6 separate regions of the Homo sapiens genome follow, and all the other regions are reported to be linked to region 4. The links are microRNA targets in miRTarBase. Many come from high-throughput screens and were not tested one by one. Region 4 holds a microRNA gene; each other region holds the end of a gene's coding sequence.
What was found. The annotated mature microRNA hsa-miR-4659b-3p reads UUUCUUCUUAGACAUGGCAGCU and lies in region 4 at 2,295-2,316, shown strand. An mRNA with a match to its seed (bases 2 to 7 or 8) in the 3' UTR can be bound and repressed. Matches are read on the target gene's strand: a 7mer-m8 pairs with bases 2 to 8, a 7mer-A1 pairs with bases 2 to 7 and ends in A, and an 8mer does both.

Region 1: miRTarBase lists TIGD2 as a target of hsa-miR-4659b-3p. The part of its 3' UTR that is shown has no 7-base or 8-base seed match.
Region 2: the mRNA of CSRP3 is a reported target of hsa-miR-4659b-3p. Seed matches in the 3' UTR shown: 7mer-A1 at 474-480, 7mer-A1 at 688-694 and 8mer at 762-769.
Region 3: the mRNA of FCRL4 is a reported target of hsa-miR-4659b-3p. Seed matches in the 3' UTR shown: 7mer-A1 at 2,489-2,495, 8mer at 2,474-2,481 and 7mer-A1 at 2,459-2,465.
Region 5: the mRNA of ARHGAP21 is a reported target of hsa-miR-4659b-3p. Seed matches in the 3' UTR shown: 7mer-m8 at 766-772, 7mer-A1 at 875-881 and 7mer-m8 at 1,301-1,307.
Region 6: the mRNA of CDH8 is a reported target of hsa-miR-4659b-3p. Seed matches in the 3' UTR shown: 7mer-m8 at 3,633-3,639 and 8mer at 4,036-4,043.

Annotation. Positions count from the first base shown.
Region 1 is chr4:89,113,753-89,117,752 of GRCh38, forward strand. TIGD2 (tigger transposable element derived 2) reads left to right here. Exons shown (of 2, transcript NM_145715.3): 2 at 1-1,149. The coding sequence ends at 800. Among named protein-coding and RNA genes, the nearest start is that of TIGD2, 4.2 kb to the left of the region's middle.
Region 2 is chr11:19,178,870-19,182,978 of GRCh38, reverse strand. It overlaps CSRP3 (cysteine and glycine rich protein 3), which reads left to right. Exons shown (of 6, transcript NM_003476.5): 6 at 233-949. The coding sequence ends at 309. Among named protein-coding and RNA genes, the nearest start is that of CSRP3-AS1, 16 kb to the left of the region's middle.
Region 3 is chr1:157,571,692-157,575,790 of GRCh38, forward strand. FCRL4 (Fc receptor like 4) reads right to left here. Exons shown (of 12, transcript NM_031282.3): 11 at 4,008-4,039; 12 at 2,056-3,919. The coding sequence ends at 3,833. Among named protein-coding and RNA genes, the nearest start is that of FCRL5, 21 kb to the left of the region's middle.
Region 4 is chr8:6,743,382-6,747,490 of GRCh38, reverse strand. It overlaps MIR4659B (microRNA 4659b), which reads left to right and starts at 2,251; the gene lies at 2,251-2,323. The region is part of intron 5 of AGPAT5 (1-acylglycerol-3-phosphate O-acyltransferase 5); the gene reads right to left. It overlaps MIR4659A (microRNA 4659a), which reads right to left and starts at 2,327; the gene lies at 2,247-2,327. RefSeq lists enhancers at 89-383, 985-1,034, 2,647-2,726, 2,757-3,036 and a silencer at 1,175-1,224.
Region 5 is chr10:24,580,906-24,585,014 of GRCh38, reverse strand. ARHGAP21 (Rho GTPase activating protein 21) reads left to right here. Exons shown (of 26, transcript NM_020824.4): 26 at 1-1,401. The coding sequence ends at 603. Among named protein-coding and RNA genes, the nearest start is that of ARHGAP21, 140 kb to the left of the region's middle.
Region 6 is chr16:61,649,964-61,654,052 of GRCh38, reverse strand. It overlaps CDH8 (cadherin 8), which reads left to right. Exons shown (of 12, transcript NM_001796.5): 12 at 1-4,089. The coding sequence ends at 445. Among named protein-coding and RNA genes, the nearest start is that of CDH8-AS1, 270 kb to the left of the region's middle.

The sequences.
Region 1 (4,000 bases), not on the chromosome of region 4:
CTGTTTTCAGACAGTGGTTTGAAAAGTACTTTGTGCCACAGGTACAGAAGCATTTGAAATCCAAGGGACTTTTAGAAAAAGCAGTGCTTCTTTTAGATTTCCCCCCAGCACGTCCAAATGAAGAAATGTTGAGTTCAGATGATGGCAGAATAATTGTGAAGTATTTGCCACCAAATGTCACAAGTCTGATTCAACCAATGAGCCAGGGAGTTCTAGCCACTGTAAAAAGATACTATCGAGCAGGACTTCTCCAGAAATACATGGATGAAGGAAATGACCCAAAAATATTTTGGAAGAACTTGACAGTGTTGGATGCAATTTATGAAGTGTCAAGAGCTTGGAACATGGTAAAATCAAGTACCATAACCAAAGCATGGAAAAAACTTTTCCCTGGCAATGAAGAGAATTCAGGTATGAACATTGATGAAGGAGCCATTTTAGCAGCTAATTTAGCAACAGTTTTACAGAACACAGAAGAATGTGAACATGTTGACATTGAGAATATTGATCAGTGGTTCGACTCTCGGAGCAGTGACTCAAGCTGTCAGGTGCTGACTGACAGTGAAAGTGCTGAGGACCAGACCAAGGCTGCTGAGCAAAAGCCTTCCAGTAAGAGTAGAAAAACAGAACTGAATCCAGAGAAGCATATTAGCCATAAAGCGGCACTTGAATGGACTGAAAATTTACTGGATTATCTTGAACAACAAGATGACATGCTTCTGTCTGATAAATTGGTATTAAGGAGGCTTCGGACCATAATAAGAAAAAAACAGAAGATCCAAAATAACAAAAATCATTAATAAGGCTCTTAAGTATTTCAGTGTATCTGCATCTTTGTGACTATCTGCAGTGAAACTTTGCTTGTTTGAAGTCCTGTGGATTCCAAAGCCAAATACATTTTATAAATGATTTTGGAATTAGATGTCAGTTTGGATTACTTAAATTACAACTCTTTAATGTTGACTCTAGTCATTGGGCATTGACGTGTAACTTGTCTTTCTACTGTTTCTAATATCTATTAATTAGATCATAAGGTACCTGAGGCCAGGGATCTTGTGTCTGTTGTGCCTGAATTTGGCGTGTCTAATAAAGGCCCATGCACACTATAGGCACTCAATAAAACTTACATTTTTATGATTTTTCTTTGAAGTTGAACTTCCAAATTGAAATATGTTGGGGGTAAGTTTCCATTTCCGCAGCTTTTCCACTGCTGAAAAGAAGAGTTCAGCAAAAATTGCGCTTGAAGTATTTCACTGCGACTGCAGAGAACTGAAGGAAAATAGTCTAAAGCCTTAAATATTGCATTTCTGTACTAGCAGTATTTGGGCAATTAGCAATTCAGATCAACCATCTCTTGAGAATAGTAAAGGAAGAGAAGTATGATTTAAATGTCCCAGAAAAAGGATTTGCACTTCATTTTTTTTTTTCCATCTGATAAGAGGGAGTGTTCCTAAATAGTTGTGGAAAGAATCCCATTCCTGTTCCAGGAAAATAGATTTCAGTTCCCAAACCATTGCAGTTAGAAGAGGTAAGCGTTACATTTTATCATCTGTCTTTTGGGTTCTTTATAGATGCCAGTAGTATTTCTCTTTAATAAGCTATTTGACGTTTATGTAACATTTGAAAGCTTACAAAGTATGTATGTCATTTGCTTTCATACAGCATTTTTTGTGAAAACCAATACTGAGAATATAAGCATACATCTAATTTGTGGAACCAGCAGATGAACAGTAGACTAACATAAAGTAGAACACGAAGAGAGGCAGTAGAGGAGTGCAGCTGCTGTGTGACCATCGGCAAATTACTTAACCCCCGCATCTGTTAAATACAAGTAATACCTGCCTCAGAGTTTTGTGAGGTGTAAACGAGTTGACATATGGATTTTAAATAATAGGGGCTTATAATAGGGCCTGGCACAGAATAACATTGAATGTTAGCTGTTACTCCCATTGTGGATATTGAGTTTCAGTAGTATGCTAAACAGATCCAATGTGTTACTCAAAGTAGGGTTGCTGCATTTGGAAAACCCTTCCAAGGAAGTGAGATAAAAGAGATACAAGTGGCCAGGCGCGGTGGCTCACGCCTGTAATCCCAGCACTTTGGGAGGCCAAGGCAGGTGGATCACTTGAGGTCAGGAGTTCAAGACCAGTCTGGCCAACATGGTGAAACCCCGTCTCTACTAAAAACAGAAAAAATTAGCGGGGCATGGTGGCATGCGCCTGTAATGCCAGCTACTCAGGAGGCTGAGGCAGAAGAATCACTTGAACCCAGGAGGCAGAGGTTGCAGTGAGCTGTGATCACGCCACTGCACTCCAGCCTGAAACTCCGCCTCAGAAAGAAAAGAAAGAAAAAAAGATACAAGTAATTAGTTTCAGCAGAAATGCAATAATGATTTCTTTCATTGAAAACTGAAGGGTTACTCTAATTGAAAAATCACTTACCACCCCCTGGTAGGCTTTGTGATGTATGCAGGCATTTAAGATATCTTAGGTGGAGTTATAACAGGAAATGAGAATGGAATTGTAATTTCTTTGGTCCAGTTCTGTTAGCACTTTGCTAATAAAAAGATGTTGGCTTTATTCATAGAAGAAAATCTTAATATTGGCATAATAATAAAATACCTTTACAGTGGATAATATAGCAATAAGCAAGACACCTGGAATATTTTATCTAACTAAAGTAATACGGGATAAGTAGAAAAAGCAAAAGAAATGTCATGGGAGACAGTGGTTATAGTAATTAGGCCCAGCTATATATAGGGAGCTTGTCATTTGGTTTGAGGGGAATTTAGAGCCCACATCTGATTATTTTCTTTCGTGAGGATTATCATCAGTGTCTTCAGCTGAGCCTCTGGATTCTAGAATAGCTTTTTCAGAAGACCTCTCAGAATATACTTTCTTTGGATAATTCATACATCATTATTAAAACACTTTCCTCAGTTTACACTGTTTCACCTACCTGATAGCCTTGAGGAAATACAACCCTGCAAGATAAGTCCTGAGGCTATTTGGCTTCCTGGAGACCAAGGATTCTAAAACTTGATAAGGGTAATGACTTACATTTGAACACTGCTTTGCATTTTCACATTGCTTTTTGCTAACACAAACTTAAACTTTGTTCAGTCATGACACTGAACTGGTTTAGTCTCATGTTGTATCATTAATCGTAATATAAATTATGCATTCTCATTCCGCATTTCATTGCAATACAAAAATCTTAACCTCCTTGAGATATTGTAATAGTTCCTCTAGAAAGACACATCATGGTAATCTTGGTTAACACTTGCCCCTTATGTGTACCCTAGTTTGAAAAGCAGACATATGTACTCTCATTTGACTTTGTACACCTTAAAGGAAATACCTACAAATTCTGATTATTGGTTAATAATTCTGACTATTGGTTAATTTTAAAAATGTATATGTTTTTTAGAGGAACCTGAGAGACTAACAGAACTCAGACTAAATGGACAAAGTATTTGGCAACTAAGCATGCTTTTTTCACAAAACTGCAGTGTGAATATTTACTATTTCATAATTCAGTCTCAGTAATACAGGGGTTGGTTGGAGAACTGGGCGCTAAATAAATATAGAGTTGGCAGGCCAGGATCAGAAGCCGTAGTCAATTTAAGCAGAATGATAGGGAGGACCCTGCACTCCAAAATTAGATTTATTCAGGAGGGCTGTGTTCACGTATCACCTTAATATTTTCACAAATTGACTTTTTTTTTTTTAATATACACACTATATATGTTAAGCAATGATATCTACAGAATTGCAGGTCTCATGTGCCAACTGGGGTCTTTGTCTAATTCAAGTTAAACATAAGAATTCTTATTTTTAAACTTGCCAAACTAAAACTTAAAATCAATTTTGTATACCTCATCTGCACACTTTAGAAACACTAGCCAAGCAGAAGGAGTAGGGTTGTTGAAGGTTAACAGATTGGAATGCAAACTCCAGCTTCTCCACTCTTTATATAGTTAACCTTAGCAGCATTCTGG
Region 2 (4,109 bases), not on the chromosome of region 4:
CTCTATGTTGGCCAGGCTGGTCTCAAACTCCCGACCTCAGGTGATCTGCCTGCCTCAGCCTCCCAAAGTGCTGGGATTACAGGCATGAGCCACCGTGCCTGGCGAACTTATGCATAAATCTATCAAAAGGATGTCTCTAATAATTAAAAGGACTGTGCTCAGACAGAAAGCCCTGAAAAAAATGGCACTAACCAATGCATTGTCTCTCCCTTCATCCTCTTCTCATTCACAGTTTGCTATGCCAAAAATTTTGGCCCCACGGGTATTGGGTTTGGAGGCCTTACACAACAAGTGGAAAAGAAAGAATGAAGAGGTGCGCCGTTTCTCAGATTTTTTGCGAGCCTAAAACACTTGCCAAGTAATCCTGCACAGATCGATACCTTTCCCCAAATAGCCTCTCCTTTGTAGTCGTACATTATGTGTTTCTCCTCAGAAGTGATCAGGTCTTTACTGAATGTTAGAAGAGGCCTTTGGAAGAAAATTATGTAAAGTTTAATCTATAACAAATGCTTTATTATTTATAATGCTTGGAATGGGAGAGGCAATAAATAAATGTTTTAGTGCTATCTTGTATGGCTCTAGATCTTTTCTTTGAGATAGAAATTTTCAAAAACATAAAGCTAGTTCAAAAAACGAGTTGCAGAGCATATAATAAATTTGGATGTCAACTGAGAAAGGAGTGAGAAGGAAGAAACAATGCGCAAAGGAAAGCAGTCTTTCAGAATCTGTCAGCCAAGTGTCTTTCTAGTTACTGCTAATGGAGAAGAAAACAGGGGGTCTGGGAGAAAATAGAGAACATGATAGCAAAATCTAAAAGGAAAATCAAAACTAATAAAATTGCTGAAGAGTTGATCCCTTTGTCCTATCGTGGGGCTTTGTAATGTTACACATCTCGTGAAAACTCAGAAATGACAATAAAGCGTGGCATTTGCCTCTGTATTATAAATGACATGAGGATGATTTTCTTTTATTCTAGGACAATTCCCTGGGGTTTAGCAATTTTCTTAAGACTTCTACGTCAAATTTGCCAGCCTTGCAAATGAAATGCAGCCAATTAGAAATGTCTTTCTCTGCCTCTTCAGCAAGTTTCAGCAGCTCAAGCACTTCTTGGGCTTCTGCTTTTAACAACCACAGCACTTCCCCCAGCACTGTGCAATTCTGAATTATCTGGAATACATGAAACAAGTGAAAATCTAGTGATAAGAACTATAAAATACTTGGCTAAACCATGGGTTTCTCCACCCTCCAAGTCCCCTGGGAAAGGCTTTCTTTGAAATGAGCATCTATTCAGTGCTGTTTATGTAGTGTCTTGGACAAGGCCCTACATGAGCTTTAAAAGCAGTACACGATCTTGGCACTATGCATGGGATTTCCAGGTTTGCTGAGGGGTAACACATATTTGAGAAATGACCACAGGACAATGCAACCTCCTCCTCCTCTGCTGCATTTCACAGTGACTCGCCCCACCGTCCAGCTACCCAGGAAATCTGAAGCTAAAAACTTTAGCCATCCTTAGCTTTGCTCTCTTCCTCACCTGACCTTGCCTCACTTCTCAAGTCTCCTGGATTCTGACTCCAAATGTCTCTAGAATACATCCCCTCCATCCCTCTTTTTAGGATGTGTAATAGTCTGTTAGGGTTGCCATAAGAAAGTACCACAGGCTGAGTGACTTAATAGAAACGTATCGTCTCACATTTCTGGAGGCTGAAGTCTGAGATCAAGGTGTCAGCAGTGTTAGTTTCTTCTGACACCACTCTCATTGGCTTGGAGATGGGTGTCTTCTCCCTTTGTCTTCACATGGTTTTTGCTCTGTGGGTGTCTGTGGTCTAATCTCCACTTCTTGGAAGGACACCAGTCATATTGGATTAGGGACCACCTGAATGACCTCACTGTAACTTAATTACCTTTTTCAAGGCCCTTATCTACACATGCAGCCATCACATTCTGAGGTACTGGGGGTTAGGACTTCAACAAATAAATTTTGCAGAGACACAGTTCAGCCCATAACAGTGTATCACATAAAGACTTTCACAAATTGGCCTTGGCCTTACCCCTTCAACTTAGCTTTAGACAATCTCTTCCAGACAAGTTCCAGCTACACTCAAAGACTCGGAGCTTTCCAAACATGCCCAGAACCCTCACCCCATCATGTCTTTGCTAATGCTGTTCCTTCTGCCTAGAATTCCTGGAAGATGGGAACCTCCCCCCATCTCTACCCACTAATCCAACTTCTTAGCCTGGTGAACTCCTATTAAGCAAGTCACAGGTCAAATGCCATCTCCTCTGGAAATTGTTCCTGAACTACCTGGGCAGAATTAATCTACCTCTGTACTCCCATAGCCGGTATGTAATTAGCATAGTACTTATGTCATCGTATTGAAATTTTGAATTCCTATTTGCCTCCTTGTAAGAATGTGACATGTCAAGCCATTCACAGTGCTTGACACATAGAAGACACCTAATAAACATTTGTTGAGTGAATGAAATAGGGGAGAGTATAGGCCAGGCTAAATGCAAATTCTGCTAGAATCTAAAAGTTTATTACATAGTGGACTGAATGAGTTTAGAAAAAAACAAAACAAAGGAAGAAGCTTATTGTGGTTCAGCAATAGTTGTATTTCCCTTCCACTTCTTGGGTATGCTGTTCCACTACATTTCCCAGGCTCCCTTGCTGTTCACTGAGACACATGAGTGAGTTTGCCCAATGAAGTCCTGGCCTCCATGACCTTTCAGGAGAGTCTCCATTCTTTCCATATGTCTGGATGCAGAAGTCCAGTGGATACTGAGGCCCTAGGAATGGTGGAGCCACTAGATGGGAAGCAGCTTGAGTCACTGCATGGAAGAACACCTGCTAACAGCTAAACAGACCATGACATGAGAAAGAAACATTGTGTGAAGCCACTGAGATTGGGAGGATATTTATTATTGCATGAGCTCCCATGACTACTACACACCTGAAATATAGACTGTGCTACATCCAAGTGATTCCACTCATGGTGCCAGCGTCCATCCTAAGTCACAGGGGGCATGATCAAGATTTTGCCTGATATTTGTGAAAGAGATTCAAATTTGTTGTCTCCAATGTGGCTATATACATATTTGAAGAAAGGAATAAAGTTATGGCAAAATAGCATAACAGTCACATTCCCCTGGCCCTGAAAAACATGATTGGGTTTGTCTTGGATTTAAAATAAAACAAAGACTAAACCTTGCTATTATGCCACAAGCTACTGCCGTCTCCTCTCTCCTTTCAGAGCCAAGCTGTAAGACTAGATTCCACTTAGTCCTTAGTCTTTTAGACTCTTTAGTCTTCCTTGCCTCTACTCTCCATCCTCAACCACCACTAATAACTGAGGCCACTAATAACCTCTTTTTTTTTTTTTTTTTGAGATGGAGTCTCTCTCTGTTGCACAGGCTAGAGTGCAATGGCACTATCTCAGCTCACTGCAACCTCTGCCTCCTGGGTTCAAGCGATTCTCTTGCCTCAGCTTCCTGAGTAGCTGGGATTACAGGTGTGTACCACCATGCCTGGCTAATTTTTGTATTTTTAGTAGAGATGGGGTTTCCACCATGTTGGCCAGCCTGGTCTCGAACTCCTGGCCTAAAGTGATTTGCCAATCCCCACCGCGCCCGGCCCTACTAATAACCTCTTAATCACAAACTCTTTTGTCTTTCATCAGCTATTCTCAACTTCTGCTCAAGCTGCTCCTTAGTTCCTGCCAACTGACTGCTTCCTCTCTGAAATGAATCCTCTCTTGATTCTATGACACTATTATTATTATTATTATTATTATTTTGAGGTGGAGTTTCCCTCTTGTTGCCCAGGCTGGAGTGCAGTGACACAATCTCAGCTCACCGCAACCTCCACCTCCCAGGTTCAAGCGATTCTCCTGCCTCAGCCTCCCGAGTAGCAGGGATTACGGGAATGTGCCACCACACCCAGCTCATTTTGTATTTTTAGTAGAGATGGGGTTTCTCCATGTTGGTCAGGCTGGTCTCAAACTCCCGACCTCAGGTGATCTGCCCACCTCGGCCTCCCAAAGTGCTAGGATTACAGGAGTGGCACTGTGTCTGGCTGACACTACTTTCTTGTCCTCCTACTCGATCTC
Region 3 (4,099 bases), not on the chromosome of region 4:
TCTAAGCTACAGTGCAAGCAGCACTGACCTTAGCTTTTAGGATCCAGCATATCCAAAGAGCCCAAAACTGTCATGGCTGGTCAGAATGTTGTGTAAAGGCTACAGCAAGGCTCTACAGGAGAATCACAGTTGAGAACCATAAAATTTTGGAGCAAAACTATGTTCTCTTCAAGTAACTTTTCTTTTTCACTGAACACTTGAACATGGCCCACCAGAGACCTGAGCTGTTCCCCATGAACTGGAAGCTGTCTGATCCACAAAGCAAAAATTCATAATATATTGAGGATTATTCCATCATTAAGTGGAAGTGATTTGCAGGAGGTCTCACTCCAGAATGGTCTGAAAGCAATGGTAAGTTGAATAAACAATGAATAGCTCATATTCTGCTGCTCTTTTACCTCTCTGTTTCAACCAGCAACTATGACCTGGTGGTGAGTTCCCTATGACCAACTGACAGAGGAGGAAAAAACAGTCTATCCTGGTTTAAATATGCCCTCACATCAGCTGAGGGTGACAATTGCAGCACCTCAACCACATTCAGGAATCCCTGGAGGATTGTGACAGAGATGGGTATTCCCAGTGGTCCACTTTGACTGGAAGATGAGATGTCCAGAGGTGAGGCTTTACTCTGATTCATGAGCAGTGGCTAGTGTTTGGAGCTGTATGGTCAGGAATTTGGAAAGAATAAAACTGCAAGATTAGGCAAGAATCATATTGTTGGACCTCTTTGAATGGATCCAGAGTATGAGAATATTTGTGTCTTATGAGAATACTCACCCAAGGCCTTACTGAGGAAGATCTCAGGAATCAGGAGGCTGTGATCATCTGCTCTGGCTGAATGTCAGGCAGCCTCTTTCTCCAGTTACTCCAGCAATTGCTCAAAGGGCTCATTAATGAAGCGGCCTTGGTGGAAGGTGCAGAGTTTATGGAAGGATTCAGTAACATAAGGATGTACTCACCCAGGCCAGTCTGACCACTGCTAAGTGCCCAATTGACATACACAGAGGCCAAACCTGAGCCTCTGATGGAGTCAGCTCCTCAGGGGCCTGTGTACTCTGTGGTTGTGGATTATTTGCATTGGATCCTTTCCATCATGGAGAGGGCAATGATTTTCCTTACTGAAATAGTTGATTCATTCATTCAAAAATATCGATTAAACACCTACTATGTACCAGGCAGAGTTCTAGGTACTTGGGGTATATCAATGAACAAAGAGAACACAGTTTGTTGCCCTTAAGAAATCTAGTTTTTAGAGAGATGATATGCAGTAAGTGTAGTAAATCGGCAACGTTTGTTTCAAAGTATGTTTGAAAGTGATAAGCGCTATGGAAAGAAAGCAAATCAGGGTAATGGAGACTGGAGGTGCCAAAGATGGGGGGAAGTAGTTTCCAGATTTACATGTGCCTCAAAGCCTTGAGTCACCAGGGCAGACCTCAAAGCCTTGGTGGATATCAGGGAGGAAGAGCATTCTAAGCAGAGAGCAGCCCATGCAAAGGCCTCAAACAGGCATTTACCTGATGTGTGCAAGAAGCAGTGCAGAAGGCAGCGCTTCCTCAGTGAAGTGCTAAGGGGAAGAATGGCAGAAGACTGGAGGCAATGGGAGCGATCAGGTGGAGGCTTGTGGGCACTTAGGGCATCTGGCTTTCACTGTAAGAGAGATGGGGAGGCACTGCAGGGTTTTGAGCACAGTGACCGCAGTGCTGAGAATGGGCTGTGGGGACGAAAGGGAAAAAGAAGGGAGACACGAAGCCACCACTGTAACGGAAGTGAGCAGCACCTCAGACAAGAGTAGAATAATGGAGTGGTATAACGAGGTGGTCTTCTGGGTGTAGATATTTTAACTCTTTATTATGGAAAATTAAAACTTGCAAAAGTAAAGAATAGTATAAGCCTCCTCTTCTTCCCATAATGTACCCTTCACTCAGCTCCAGAAATGGTGCACATATGACTGATCCTGCTACATCTATACCTACCCACTTCCTACCCACCCTCACCTCATCGGGTTATTTCAAACCAAATCACATCATTTCATCTACTAATTTCATGTACGCCGAATTTACGTTAATAAGCTTTAATCTAATACTTCAGTATAAGCGCTGAAAGTGAATATCCTTTTGCTTTTATAAAAACATCACTACAATAAACTATCACTTATATCCAAAACACACAACAATTTCTTAATATTAGTATACAAATTTTTCTTAGTATTTCGTAGGTAGTTTTATTTTTTCTTAATTTGAGTCAGGATCCAAACAAGACCCACACATTCCTTTTGGTCGACATGTCTCGTCTCATTTAATTTATATGTCTTCTATTTTTCTTTTTCTCTTTTTTTGGGGGTGATACATGTGACAAATTCATACACTCATATAATTTGTAAAGATCAAATCAGCGTAGTTGGGATATCTGTCACCTTAAATATTCGTCTTTTCTTTATGTTGAAAATATTCTAATTACTTTTCTTCATTTTTCTTTTCTTCTCTCTCCCTTTCTTCCTCCCTCTCTTCTTTTTATTTCATTTTTTTCCCATTTATTTGTTATAGAAGCCAGGTGATTTGCCCTATAGAACTTTTTCTCAGTTTATGTTTTGCTGGTTGCAATCCCATAATGTTATTTAAACAAATTCCTTTTCTCCATGCATTTTCTATAAAACAAGTATTCAGTTAGAAAGACTTGAATGGATTCAGTTTTAACACTTGGGGCATGGATAATTTGTAGGTGGTATTGTACACTTCCATCAGGAGACCTCTAATATTTGGCTGCTGGTTTTTGTCAATTATTTAACCAGTAGGTGTATCATGAAATATCCATACAAATTTGTGGCTTCCTATTTCTTTTATTCCTTCTTCATTTATTGCAAGAATTATTCTCATATAAACTAATTAGTAACTCAAAGACACAGTTCCTACAAGAAAAGCAACCTTATTTCCTTTGAGAAGGGAATGGTATTTAGAGAATAAAACCTCTCTGCAAGGAGTGCTTATTGCTAAGGGGTTGGTAATTATTTCAGTGAACAGACGTAGGAAATATTTATCTTTTTTTAAAGGCAGAGTTTATTATGAGTTTATACTAATATTTTAAGTTCAAATTTAGTTTTGGAGAGTTGGTACTTAAGTTTTTAATTTTATATTTGTGTCTCTTTTCTCTAATGTTGCAAATCTTTGTCACTAATGACATTAACATAATTATCATTTGCTTTTGGAAGCGCAGCCTAGAGCTTGCATCTCCAGCTCTTCTGATGTCCTCTTTTAAATTCCTCTCTCTGTAAACCATTCCAGATGGGTTCTTTAATCTGCAACTGAATCCTGACAGTGTAAGCTGTGCAGGCAGAAGTGAAGGGGCTTTTCATTGTTTGCACAGTGCCTGTGCAGCCACTCACAGTTAAACAAACTGATGCAAGTGAGTCTCCAGTGAGACAATGGTTGTAGATGTATTAAGCAGAGATCCAGGTCACCCAGTCTTTTTCATCTCTGCAAATCCCAATTCACCAAAATTTGTGCTTCTGTTTTTCATAACAGTCCTTCTCTCTCTTTATCCCCCTTCTCTAAAGCAGACCCTAGGGAATACATTAGGTCAGGCCCACAGCAAATACTACAGGGTCTTCTCTTAACTGTGGATCCTGGTCATTTTAGTGAAGTCTTTCAGAGGCCATTCCATCCCAACATCAGAGTAGACGAATGAGTATTCCTGGGAGTGAATGCATATGCATGAGAAGAATTAGAAAGCTGGAATGAGTTGATCATTCCAGGGGCCGCAAGGACTGCACTGGGCCTGGGACTTTGGACAAGGGAGAAATCACATGAGTAGGACGTTCTCGTAACTTTTCATTCTCTTAACTTTCTTCATCCTTAGAGCTGATCTTTCCAGCTGAGTTATCTGGGTGTTGTGTCTTTACCTCAGAGTAGACAACTGAGACATCCTGAAATGGAAGAAAGAAGTGGAAACCGAGAGGGAGTGTGAGGCTGCAGGTAATGGTGGAGATAAAACTGTGGGGAAATGAAACTCACCTTATCCTCTAGAAGTGTCCTGGAGGTATTAGCTGTGGACAGAAAGAGAATCACTGGACTATGGGCATAATGATGCACTTAGAACTCAGTCT
Region 4 (4,109 bases):
AAATCAATATTCATTTGCTATATATTGATCAAATATCTACATGTACAAGTCACCGTGTTGGAAGTTTATGGCCTAGCGGAAACGCTTCAATCTAGTAGACCCCGGCAAGGGTAAATATTAGTGCCCTCGCTTCTGGCCACTGAACAAAGGTGATAGCATCTTGCCCATGGTGACTCAAGATTTCCTAGAAATACAGTCACACAGCACATGGCCTCCTGTTTCTGGCTTCTTTCGCTCAGCATGGATCTGAGGTTCATCTGTGTGGCTGCAGGACTCAGTGCTTCATTCCTTTTTATGGCTGAATAGTTAGTATTCCACTGTGTGAACAGATCACATTTTGTTTACCTATTAATTGCTTCATGGACATTTGGGTTGCATCCATACTTTGGCTATTATGAATAATGCTGCTATGAACATTCATAGGAATTGCATATGAAGGCTGCAGGTGAACAAGCTTTTGTATGAACATACGATTTCAATCCTCTTGGGTATATCTGACATATTTTTAAAAGGTTCTTTAGCTGGGGGACTACTGCAATTATCCAGAACAAATCCCATTCATTAGGTTCCTACTAGGGTTAAGGATTTGTTCTTCTCTCCTTCCTATTACCTCCCTTTTCCTTGATTAAAATATTTACTGACAATTTAACAGAAAACAGTAGCTCTCAATAAGTGACATGAAAATAGACTATAAAAAACTAGTCTAGATTTTCTACTGGCCTCTCTGGAGGGAAAGTAGCTGAGTAAGGAAGAACAGCTATTACATGGTGGGACTGTCCCACACAAGAGGTTTTAAAATGCAGGGTGGTGTGGGAAAGACAAAGATTCCCACAAGCACGTATCTGACTTTAGTCCCCAGGGCAGGGGCAGTTAAATTGATTCACAAACTTGCAACAAAAATCTCAATCGCACACCAAGCTGGGAAGCATTTATTTGTCAGTTAAACTAGTTAACACTTCCTTCTTTGCTACTGGAGCTCATCCAACTTTATGAAGTCCAAAGTTTCAAAATATCACTCTGTGGTGTTCACTAAAACAACTAATTACTGGCATCCAAGTAAGTTAGTAAGGAAATAAAGACAGAAAGCTAGTATTTTTAAAACATAAAAGGAAATGAATTATCATGAATGTTTTAAAAAAATAGCTTTGTGACTAGGCTTCTGCTCCAGAACGCGTAGATAAAGCCACACCATAACTAGAAGGGGAATGGCCAAGAGGAAGACATGCAGAGCATGCCTGCGTGCACCCACCTGCCATGCAAAGATAAGTGGAAGAGCAGGAGGCAGGGAAACAAAGAGAACACGGAGCCGGGCGCGGTGGCACGTGTATGTCTGTAGTCCTAACTACTCAGGAGGACTGCTTTAGCCTGGAAGTTGGGGAGTGGGGGAGAGAAGGAAGAGAGGGAGGGAGAAGAATGCAGAAAGAAAAGAGAGAGAGGAGAGAAAGCAAGCAAGCAAGAGAGAACGAGTGAGGGAAGGAAGAAAGGGAGGGAGGGAAAGAAAAGAAGGAAGGGAGAGAGAGCGAAAGAAAGAAGGAAGAAAGAAGGGGGAGAGAGAACATGAGTTCAAATTGGGCATACTGAGGCTGAAGGAACAAAACATTCTAGAAGTAGTTGGAAATATGGTCTGTAAAATGGCAAGAATCAACCGAAGCTAAGCATGTGGAAACCATGGGAATGGATAACTGAAGTAATGGCAGTGGCTGAGAATAATAAAGGGCAGAAGATGAAAAGGCAAGAAATACAGACTCCGGAAACATCCACATTAAAAAAAAAAAGGTAAAAATAATAACAGGGAATACGACAACCCAGGAAATAAAAAAAGGGGGGAAACCAATGTAATACAAAAACAAAGGGAAGAGATGTTTAAAGGAAGAGGAGGTGATATTTATCTTCAACAAGAAAAATTATACTCCATTGTTTATTTCTACAATAAAGTTAAAATTATTTCCTGGTTATAAAGGTATAAATAATGTCAAAAGTTATGTGAAAGTTAACAAATATGACAACTGACACAAATGATACGATGCTTTGGAGGTCAGTGGTTAAGTGAGAAGTGGGATTCATTTCTGGAGAGTGGATGGAGTCAAACACAAGAAAGCAAGGGGCCCAGACTTCTCTTTGCACAGCTATAGACTTAGTTATTTCAGAATTGGAGTACATTTGCAAGCTGGGAGAAACCCCTGCAGAGAAGTAAGGCAGATGACTGAGGCAACGATGGAGACAGGGTAGACGGAATCAAGAGCTTAGAAACTGTTGACGTTGCCATGTCTAAGAAGAAAATTTTTCTCCAAAGTTTTCTTCTTAGACATGGCAGCTTCAGCAGTTTCTTCCAAAGAAATCCAAGTCAAGAGACTCCACATTAAGATTTTGAAATCAAAAGGGATATTGGGTGCACTCTTTCCAGAGAAATATAACTTTCTGAAAGCAAAAAATCCTTGAATGTGAAGAGAACAAAAATCCGTGAAAACCATGAGGTAGTCAAAAGGAGAAAAATAAAAGAACTGCTCCACACAGACTTGGCTCGGCTGAAATGAAATGGCCTGGCTTGGCTGCAGAAGGCAGTCAGCATTGATCTTACGATGTTCTCCACTGCTAAGGAAGGGAGAAAACAAACAGGGTTGCCAAGGGCTGAGGAAAGGCAGGGCAGGAACAGAACAGCCCAGCACTGGGATGGGCAGACCCCGGGGCTGGGGCAGACAAGAGCTGCAGAAGGCCCTGCAAGCTGCAGAAGGGCCAAGGAAAGAGAGATTAGAAATCAGCCAAAAACACAGGTTTAGAGCGAGTGAGGAGGAGGGAGAACCAGAGTCAGCTATATGGTGTGGGCGAGCCAGTGCCATTTCCAGATGAACTTCAAGGTGGTAAAAGCAGAGCACTGGACCCAGCACAGGACCTCGAACCAAGCACAGGATCCCAGACCAAGCACAGGACCCCGAACCAAGCACAGGACCCCGTACAGGAGAACAAGATCCCCCCAAGCCTCCACAAAGGACTGCAGCCCTGCCAACACCTTGATTTCAGCTGAGTAAGACCCATTTCAGACTTCTCAAATGTAAGAGAAGAAATCTGTGGTGTTTTAAGCCACCAAGTTTGTGGCCCTGCCTGAGAGCAGCCACAGGGAGCAAACACACCTTCTTAAGAGCGAGAGTGCCGTTACCACACAAAGCTGAGCACTAGCTTTCTTGTTTGCTATGCTTTCTCAGAAGTTGGCTTCAAAGTATTCATTTAATTTCTACTTCTTTGATTATGAGAAAGAATAAACATTTGTTCAAGTGTGTGGGTCATTTGTATCTCTTGAATTTCTTATTCATGCCCTTTTCCCATTTTTCTAGTTTATGTCTTTTCTAATTATGAAGCACTTTTGTAATATTAAGTATATTAATATCCTATATTATAAAATATTATTAGCTTGCCATTTGCCAACTAAATTTGTTCATATGATGTTTGAGACATAAAAATAATTTTTATTCAGTTAAGTCTACAAAGAAAAAAATTGCTTTGTAGCTTATTCCCTTTGTTCTCCTGTTTTGAAAGAACTCTCAAATCTCTACAATCGCCAGTGTTATTCACCCTATGAATAACATGGAAATTCTAGGTATCTGGTTTGCCATTATAGACACATCATTAAATTTCTGTTTTCTTTTAAGAGAGTTCAAAAAGCTTAAGTATGTCACCTTCGCTAGCAACTATGGTTTTAACCATGGCAATTAAAAAAAAAAAACCACCATAGGGGCTTACTTTAATGGGTCCAGGTGGCAGATTAAGATACATTTAATTCCACATCCCTTATAACCATTAGAAAGCCAAATACCTAAAACAAGTCTAAGGAAAATTAGTTAAAACAAAACCCTTCGAACAGCTGAGAAAAGTTTAAATATTACCACAGTGCCTGCACTTCTGCAGGACCCCATCTGAACAGCTTCTTCCTCCATGTCTAAGTTTCCTATAAGAGGTATGCAACTGCTATCAATTTGTTCTTTTTGTGAATAAAACTTAGGCAAAAAAACTGAATGATGGAGTTACCAAGACAAGAAATATGAGTGTATGCATGGAAGGATAAATTCTATCTTCAATATGCTGAGTTTGAGACATCCTTTTGGGCCAGTCAAGCG
Region 5 (4,109 bases), not on the chromosome of region 4:
CCCACATGGAAAACGAAAATAGCAGATCGGTTAAAACTGAGACCCAGAGCCCCTGCGGATGACATGTTTGGAGTAGGGAATCACAAAGTGAATGCCGAGACTGCTAAAAGGAAAAGCATCCGGCGCAGACATACACTAGGAGGGCACAGAGATGCTACCGAAATCAGCGTTTTGAATTTTTGGAAAGTGCATGAGCAGAGCGGGGAGAGAGAATCTGAACTTTCAGCTGTAAACCGGTTAAAACCAAAATGCTCAGCCCAGGACCTTTCCATCTCAGACTGGCTGGCCAGGGAACGCCTACGCACCAGTACCTCTGACCTTAGCAGAGGAGAAATCGGAGATCCCCAGACAGAGAACCCAAGCACACGAGAAATAGCCACGACCGACACACCTTTGTCTCTTCATTGCAACACAGGCAGTTCTTCCAGCACCTTGGCTTCAACAAACAGGCCCCTTCTTTCCATACCACCACAGTCACCTGACCAAATAAACGGAGAAAGCTTCCAGAACGTGAGCAAAAATGCTAGTTCTGCAGCGAATGCCCAACCTCATAAACTGTCTGAAACCCCAGGCAGTAAAGCAGAGTTTCATCCCTGTCTTTAAACTGGGGGTATGTCCACTCTAGCAAGTAAAAAAACTACTGTTACACGTTCCAGTAACTCTGTCAATATTTTCTTGTATCAGAATTGTTATTATGCAGCCTTCATTTGGGCTGGTTTCATCATTTTGCACTGTGAAATAGCTTTACAGTGCATTACTACAGCCAGAAGAACATATATATATATATATATATTTAAAAATATATCGGATAGTTGTATACAAATGAGCAAGGTATTTGTTGCAACTTACTACATAGCATATACCCAAAATCACTGAAGAAAATCGCTGGCATCAGTGTGCAGCAAATTTGTTCTTTTGGTTTCATCACTAACAAAAGTGCCTCATCATAAAAATACAGTTGGTTTTTAGGGTGCCATATTGTTAAAATTAGATAACTTACTTACATTGAATAAACGAATGCGTTTTATTGGTAACAGATATCATTACATTTACCAGTTTTAACACAGGTGGATACAGAACTTCCATTCTTTAGTCATTCCAGGTGGATCTGAGTTTTATATTCAAACTTTTAATACAGTTTTTGAGTTTTGTGTGACTTGAATTTTTAATCTTTCTGTAAAATACGTAACTTAAATGAACATATTAAATGTGTATCTTTTCTTCAGATACCAGATTTGATATAATGTTGTAACATAGGTGTGTAGATAGTGGATCCTGGATGGAACTGGCTTCTTTATCGAGAAGAATATAATTCTGCATGAGGACTTAATGAATCCAAACCTGTGTCATGCCTGTGTGCATACCCAATTAAACACTGGAAATAAAAATTGTTTTGGTGAATTTTGCATGGCTTGAAACTTATTCTGATATATTTTTAGATGTCATCCATTTATAACTACCTTACATGATTAATTGGTCCTGACTTTAAAAAGGTGCCTACTATATTTATACATTCCATCTTCTCCTCTTTCTTGCTGTGGTGGGTAGAGACTCTTTCTTACAGATGCTTACATTAGCCTAACCTCACTTGTTGACTGATAGTGTTTAACTCTTCTAGGTAAAGTAATGTATGTTATGTTAATGTTCTTTTCGTGAGTGAAACGAACATGAGTTTGGAGTCAGTCCAGCTCTACCTAGGTATGTGAACTTGAACACATTATTTAACTTCTCTGAATTTGTTTTCTCATATAAACAGTTAGTTACAGTAACACTACCTATTATAAGGGTGATTAGATTTAAATGAGATACTGTTCCACTTACAGTGCCTGCCACACACTAGTTTCAAAATAGAACAAAGCTATTGTTGGAAGTAATGGTTACAAAAAAATCTCAGACTGTTAAGGCTGAGAAGGACCTTAACAGTCATCAAATCCAGAGATTGTCAACTGTCAAACATGATACTTTCTTAAAAGTATTTTGAGATTTCCCCTTTACCATCATGAAATTCATAATATATCTAAATATAACTTTACATTGAGTATGTTATGATATAGACCATAATCCCCTATTATAAAAGAAAAATGAAAGTGATTTATAATAAAATAAATTTTTCAATATGCAAATGCTCAGGTACAACTACATCATGAAAATAATATAATGGAATAGTCAGATGTTTGCTCCAGTATATAGAGTCACTAACAATGGTAACTACACATGGAGATGGTACCATGAATAGTTTGCTGCTGGCGATGAGATTTTACTAGGAGTCATGCTCTGCTTTTAAAGTTTTGAACAAAACAAAGCACACACTTCCCTTAGTTTACATGAGGGGGAGTTCTTGCAGTGTATTATTAAAAGTGTCAAAAACACTTTTTACTTATATGTTTTAAAAGTTACTTTCAAGGCTCAAATAGTTTTATATTATTTGTTCTTGCTCCTCATTTTTTCTATATTTTTTTTTCTTTTGAGAGAGAGTCTCACTATCAGTCTATTGCCCAGGCTGGAGTACAGTGGTACGATCATCACAGTTCACTGCAGAGCTGCGACTGACAGGCACATGCCACCATGCCCAGCTAACTTTTTTTTTTTTGTATTTTTTGTAGAGATGGGCTTTCTCCATGTTGCCCAGGCTCATCTCAAACTCCGAGGCTCAAAGCGATCCGCCCGCCTTGGCCTCCCAAAGTACTGGGATTACCGGCATGAGTCACCACGCCCAACCTTTCTTTGGCTATAATTTGCTCGACTTTTTAATTTCTTGAGACGATTGCTTGGAAAATTGATTTTTAGTTGTTTTCTAATATCTTCATTTTAAGGCTATATGCTGTATTTTTATTATCATTCATTTCAAAATGCTTTCTAGTTTGCATTCTGATTTTTTTCTTTAACCTGTGAGTTATTTAGCAATGTATTGCTTAATTTCCAAACATTTGAAAACTTTCTGGTTATGTTGACTCCAGCATAATGTTACATTATCATTAAACATACATTTGAAATTGAGACATCCATTTTGACCCCACTATATGGTCAATTTTGAGAAATAACACGTCTACTTGAAAAGAATATGTTTCTATCCTTACTGGATGCTTTTTATTTGGTGTATTAGGTCAAATTTAATCATGTTTTACAGATCTAGATCATTATAGATTTCTTCCCTGGCTCTTACCAGTTCCTGAGAAGTGATAGAATATTATGATATGAATGTAGATTTGCATATCTTTTATGTCAATCTTTTATTTTGAAGTTAGTTTACTAAGTGAACATAAATTTAGAATTGTTACGTCTTTGTGGTAGATTGACCCTTCTATTATGAAATGTCCTTCATAATGAGTCTCAACCAAAGCTTTATTACCTTATTTTATATATTAATGTAGCTATATTAGTTACTTTTGGTTAGTATTTGCATAATACATCATTTCCATCCGTATTAATCCTTTTGTATTTTTCTCATAACAGCATATAGATTTTCTTTAAACATAGTCTCTTAGTTGGAATATGTAACCCAGTTACATTTAATATGATTATTTATGTGTTTGGATTCACATCTACAGCTGAACCATTCATTTTCTCCATGACCAGGGCATTTTACCTACCCTTTTCTCTTGTTTCTTGCCTCTTTTGGATTAATATTTTTATTATACCATTTCCTCCTATTAGCATATTTATATGTTCTTTTCATGGACATCCTTGACTTAACTGAATATAATTTAAATTGGATTCTACTTTGTGTATTTTTTTGTAGAGACCAGGTTTCATCATGTTGCCCAGGCTGGTCTCAAATGCCTGGGCTCAAGCGATTTGCCTGTCTTGGTCTCCCAAAGTGCTGCGATTACAGGTGTGAGCCACTGCACCGACCTGGCACATTGCAGCTTTACTAGGTTTTGTCAAATTAATCTCCAGAGTTCGCCGGCAGTGTACGAGGATTCTCATCTCTTCACTTCCTCAAGGACAGTAGGGTACTGTCAGTGTTTAAAAATTTTGTTTTTAAAACAAAGTTGATGGGTGTGAGATCTCTCACTGGTTTACATTTCCTGCATTACTAGGGCAGAGACCACGTTTCAGATGTTCATTGGCTATTCTGGTTTCCAACTAAGTTTTTTTTTTTTTTTTTT
Region 6 (4,089 bases), not on the chromosome of region 4:
AATTATCAAAGATGATGAAGACGTTCGAGAAAACATCATTCGCTACGATGATGAAGGAGGAGGGGAGGAGGACACAGAGGCTTTTGACATTGCAACTTTACAAAATCCAGATGGAATTAATGGATTTTTACCCCGTAAGGATATTAAACCAGATTTGCAGTTTATGCCAAGGCAAGGGCTTGCTCCAGTTCCAAATGGTGTTGATGTCGATGAATTTATAAATGTAAGGCTGCATGAGGCAGATAATGATCCCACGGCCCCGCCATATGACTCCATTCAGATATATGGCTATGAAGGCCGAGGGTCAGTGGCTGGCTCCCTCAGCTCCTTGGAGTCCACCACATCAGACTCAGACCAGAATTTTGACTACCTCAGTGACTGGGGTCCCCGCTTTAAGAGACTGGGCGAACTCTACTCTGTTGGTGAAAGTGACAAAGAAACTTGACAGTGGATTATAAATAAATCACTGGAACTGAGCATTCTGTAATATTCTAGGGTCACTCCCCTTAGATACAACCAATGTGGCTATTTGTTTTAGAGGCAAGTTTAGCACCAGTCATCTATAAACTCAACCACATTTTAATGTTGAACCAAAAAAAGATAATAAAATAAAAAAGTATATGTTAGGAGGTTATAAATCTTGTGGAGTGTGAATTAAGTATGTGGAGTGTCTAGAAGTCCTTGGATATTTGATATTTACCTGACCACCACAGACAAAGATTGGGATCCTGGCTAATCCTTAGATAAATGGTTTAAATAGAGGAAAAAATCATAATTAAAAGGTGCTTTCTTAGAAAAAAAAATACGGACCTGCAAGGAATCTGCTGCTGATATGTGTCTTCTGCAAGGATTTTTATGAATGCAAATGGTTTTTTCCCCTTCACCAATAAGGATCCCGCCACAAATGATAAAGCAATACTTGGTCTGCTGTACATTATAACTTTTTGGAGTTTTGAGAGGCCTCCTAGATTATACAGTACGGTGACCACACATTGTACATAATTGTTGGCCCCACTCACTAGAGACTGAATAGCATCTTTAAATATTGTGTCGAGCCTTAAAATATTCACATGTTCGTAATCCATTCCAGGGTGGGGCTTGCCAATTCAGTGGTGGGAGGAGAGAAATCCCATTCAAACATGCTTGTTTTCTAGAAGCAGGATTCCTCGTTCCCTCCTCTTCATCTTCTTCCACAAGGACACAAAGATAAACTGTATCACACAGTGGACTACATAAGAGACAGATGGTTTTATTGCTAGCGCGTGAATTTATTTGTTTAATCCTCGAAATAAATATTTTATTGATGTCCATTAATGCTTTTATTTATTAAGGTCGGTAATCTATAGATTAAGGGGATATATGGGAAAAAACTAAATTATATCCATTAATAATCCTTTAGATTGTTTTATATAAATATATATACAATGAATGTTTAATACATGTACATTTTGATGAGATGAGTATGGCAGGCAATATTATCGAAAGGAGAGCTAATAGTCTCTTTAGAGTAGAAAGTGTTATTGTAACTGGAGATGGCAGGAACAGCATCTTCCCAGACAAACTTTTGGACTGTTTTCTATTTTGTTCATAATCCTAGTATTTGGTGTTTTTACTACAAGCACAAACATCCTAAAGTATATTGATTCCTGTGAATATTTAAACTCTAGACTTTTAGATACCTACATCATGCCCTGCCCAATAAACATGCTTCAATTTACCCCCACAGTTTTAGAGCAGGAACTGATTTGTACATAATTTCACTGTTTACGTTTTTAGCACTCCTATCCCTGATCTTCATGGTGATGCACAGAATGTCTTAGACTCCAAAAAGGAACAGCACTAGAAGATGTGAGCATATTTAATTTGTAATGCAAACCTGCCATTTAGGAGTAGAAAATGTATGATAAAACTCAAGTATTACATGCAGATCATTTTAATTTTCTACTTTGCTTTAATGCAATATTGTTTATTCACTCCATGTATTGTATTCAGAGAAACTCCTGTATTGTTTCCTACTTTGTGAAATATATTTTTATAAATACCTTTGTTGTCATTAATTTTTTTTTCAATCAGTGGAAGATCTATTAACAGAATCATCAACTCAAACTAAAATTCTAGAATACTCAACCAAATCATCCCAAGGGTCACTTTTGTTTGTAAGACTCTTTATTATAGAGAAACAGAGAAGAGAAATGGCTTGCCAGTGATCACACAGCAAGATACCAGCAGGGACATAAGAGGAACATGGAACACCTAAAGGCTAGTCCAGCTGTGTCATTTGGGTCCTTCTGGAAGCAGACGCATTGGGCAGGGAAAACCTTCAGACAAGTTTGCAGACCTAAAACTTGTAACAATAGAGGGATTGGGAGCAGGATTTGGCAAGAGAGTCTTAGACTGCAGTGCGGACCTGGCAAAATCTCTGCCAGTCTGACAGGGGGTTCTAGAGTGAAAACACATCCATTAAAGCAGTCAGGCTGTGGTCCTCTGTCATCTCAGTCATTGGTGCGGGGCTGCTAAGAAGAGAACGGTTTTTGACTCAAAAGCTGAACGCACCAACTTCTAGAGGCCACCTTCACTGTGACAGAAACTGCATGTTTAAATACTATACTAACAATTTATAACTATCCGGTGGCTTAATCAACTTTTTATTGAGTTTCTGTTGCTGAGAATAAGTCATCTTTTATGCGTATTATTACGGCTAGTGAACACTTTTTCTTGAGGTCAAAGGGATGGTCCAACATGACTTTAAAATATACTAGGACTTGGCACAGTGTCTAAAACAAGTGCTTGGTGAATGTAAATTATTAGTAGTAGTTGCAGTAATAACCAATAGTAATATTCCAACTATCTTACACCTTCCAAACCAAGGAGAGATTATTATGTTTTATGTATCTCTTGAACACCAGACTCATTTCTAGTGTACTTTGAAGTGCCCAAAGATTATAGACACACAAATATGTCTAACAGAATAATTACAGTATTTTTTAAGGAGTATAAAATCTGTATCCTCAAATATTGGTAATCAACAGGATAATCTTCGTACAGTGGTTTCTGTGAGCAGGAGATAATGTCTGCTCTACTAGTTGCCCAAATATCGCCTAAGTATTCTCTTTGCCTAGGAACACAGAATGAAAGCTTGCATCTCTTGCTGACTTTCTTTGCCACCACAGTGTCAGCATTTTGTGTTTAAAAGCCTATTTCAGGTCTTGTAACATAGAATAAAGTGACTAATACCTTGATCCTAATAAGATTGACCTATACTTTTAGAGTGTCATGAATTAAACTAAAAATCTCAGGAACTATCTCTCTCTTTCTCTCTTTCTCTCTCTCTCTCTCTCTCTCTCTCACACACACACACACACACACACACACACACACACAACAAACAAATAAAAAACACACATTTTGACTTGAAGTTTTACTTTAGCAATAGACTTGCCAGGACTTTCCCAACCAAAAGATATCAATAAGGTTCCTAACATTTTCTAAGATTTAAGTATCCCATGCTCAATTTGTTAAATAACACATTTTAAAAACTTTATTGAAATGACTATATTTTTAAAGCTATGTGCATTGTTGTCTGTTTCATCAACATTGACATAGCAGAAACAAGAGTACTCTCTGCTAAATAGAGAAGAATGATTAAGTTGGAGCCAAGTGAGACAAAGTTATCTCCCTCTGCCTACCTCACAATTCAAGGTTCCCACCTAGGGAACTGATGCATCCCTGGGTGATTGGACACAACATGGGATCAATTCAGCCTCTACTCTGCCTATGATTTGATCAAATCATATTAGCAAAGTGTCTCTTAAACATCCATATATGAATATTAAAGAGTATTAAGGGGGGCATTTCTTAACAATATTTTTATGAGTATAGTTATAAGTTTCTAAACATTTATAATACGATGACTAAAATATGCTATTTTTAAATTCAAGTGTTAACCTTGCCACACAGAATTATGACTTCTAGGGTGTAAACTTTAAAGTGAAACTGTTTTGAAAAAAATCTGCAGTTAAGTGTATGTGTATATATAGAAGAAAAGGAAACTTAGATTTACTGGTATCACCAGTGAAGCAAGAATGCTTA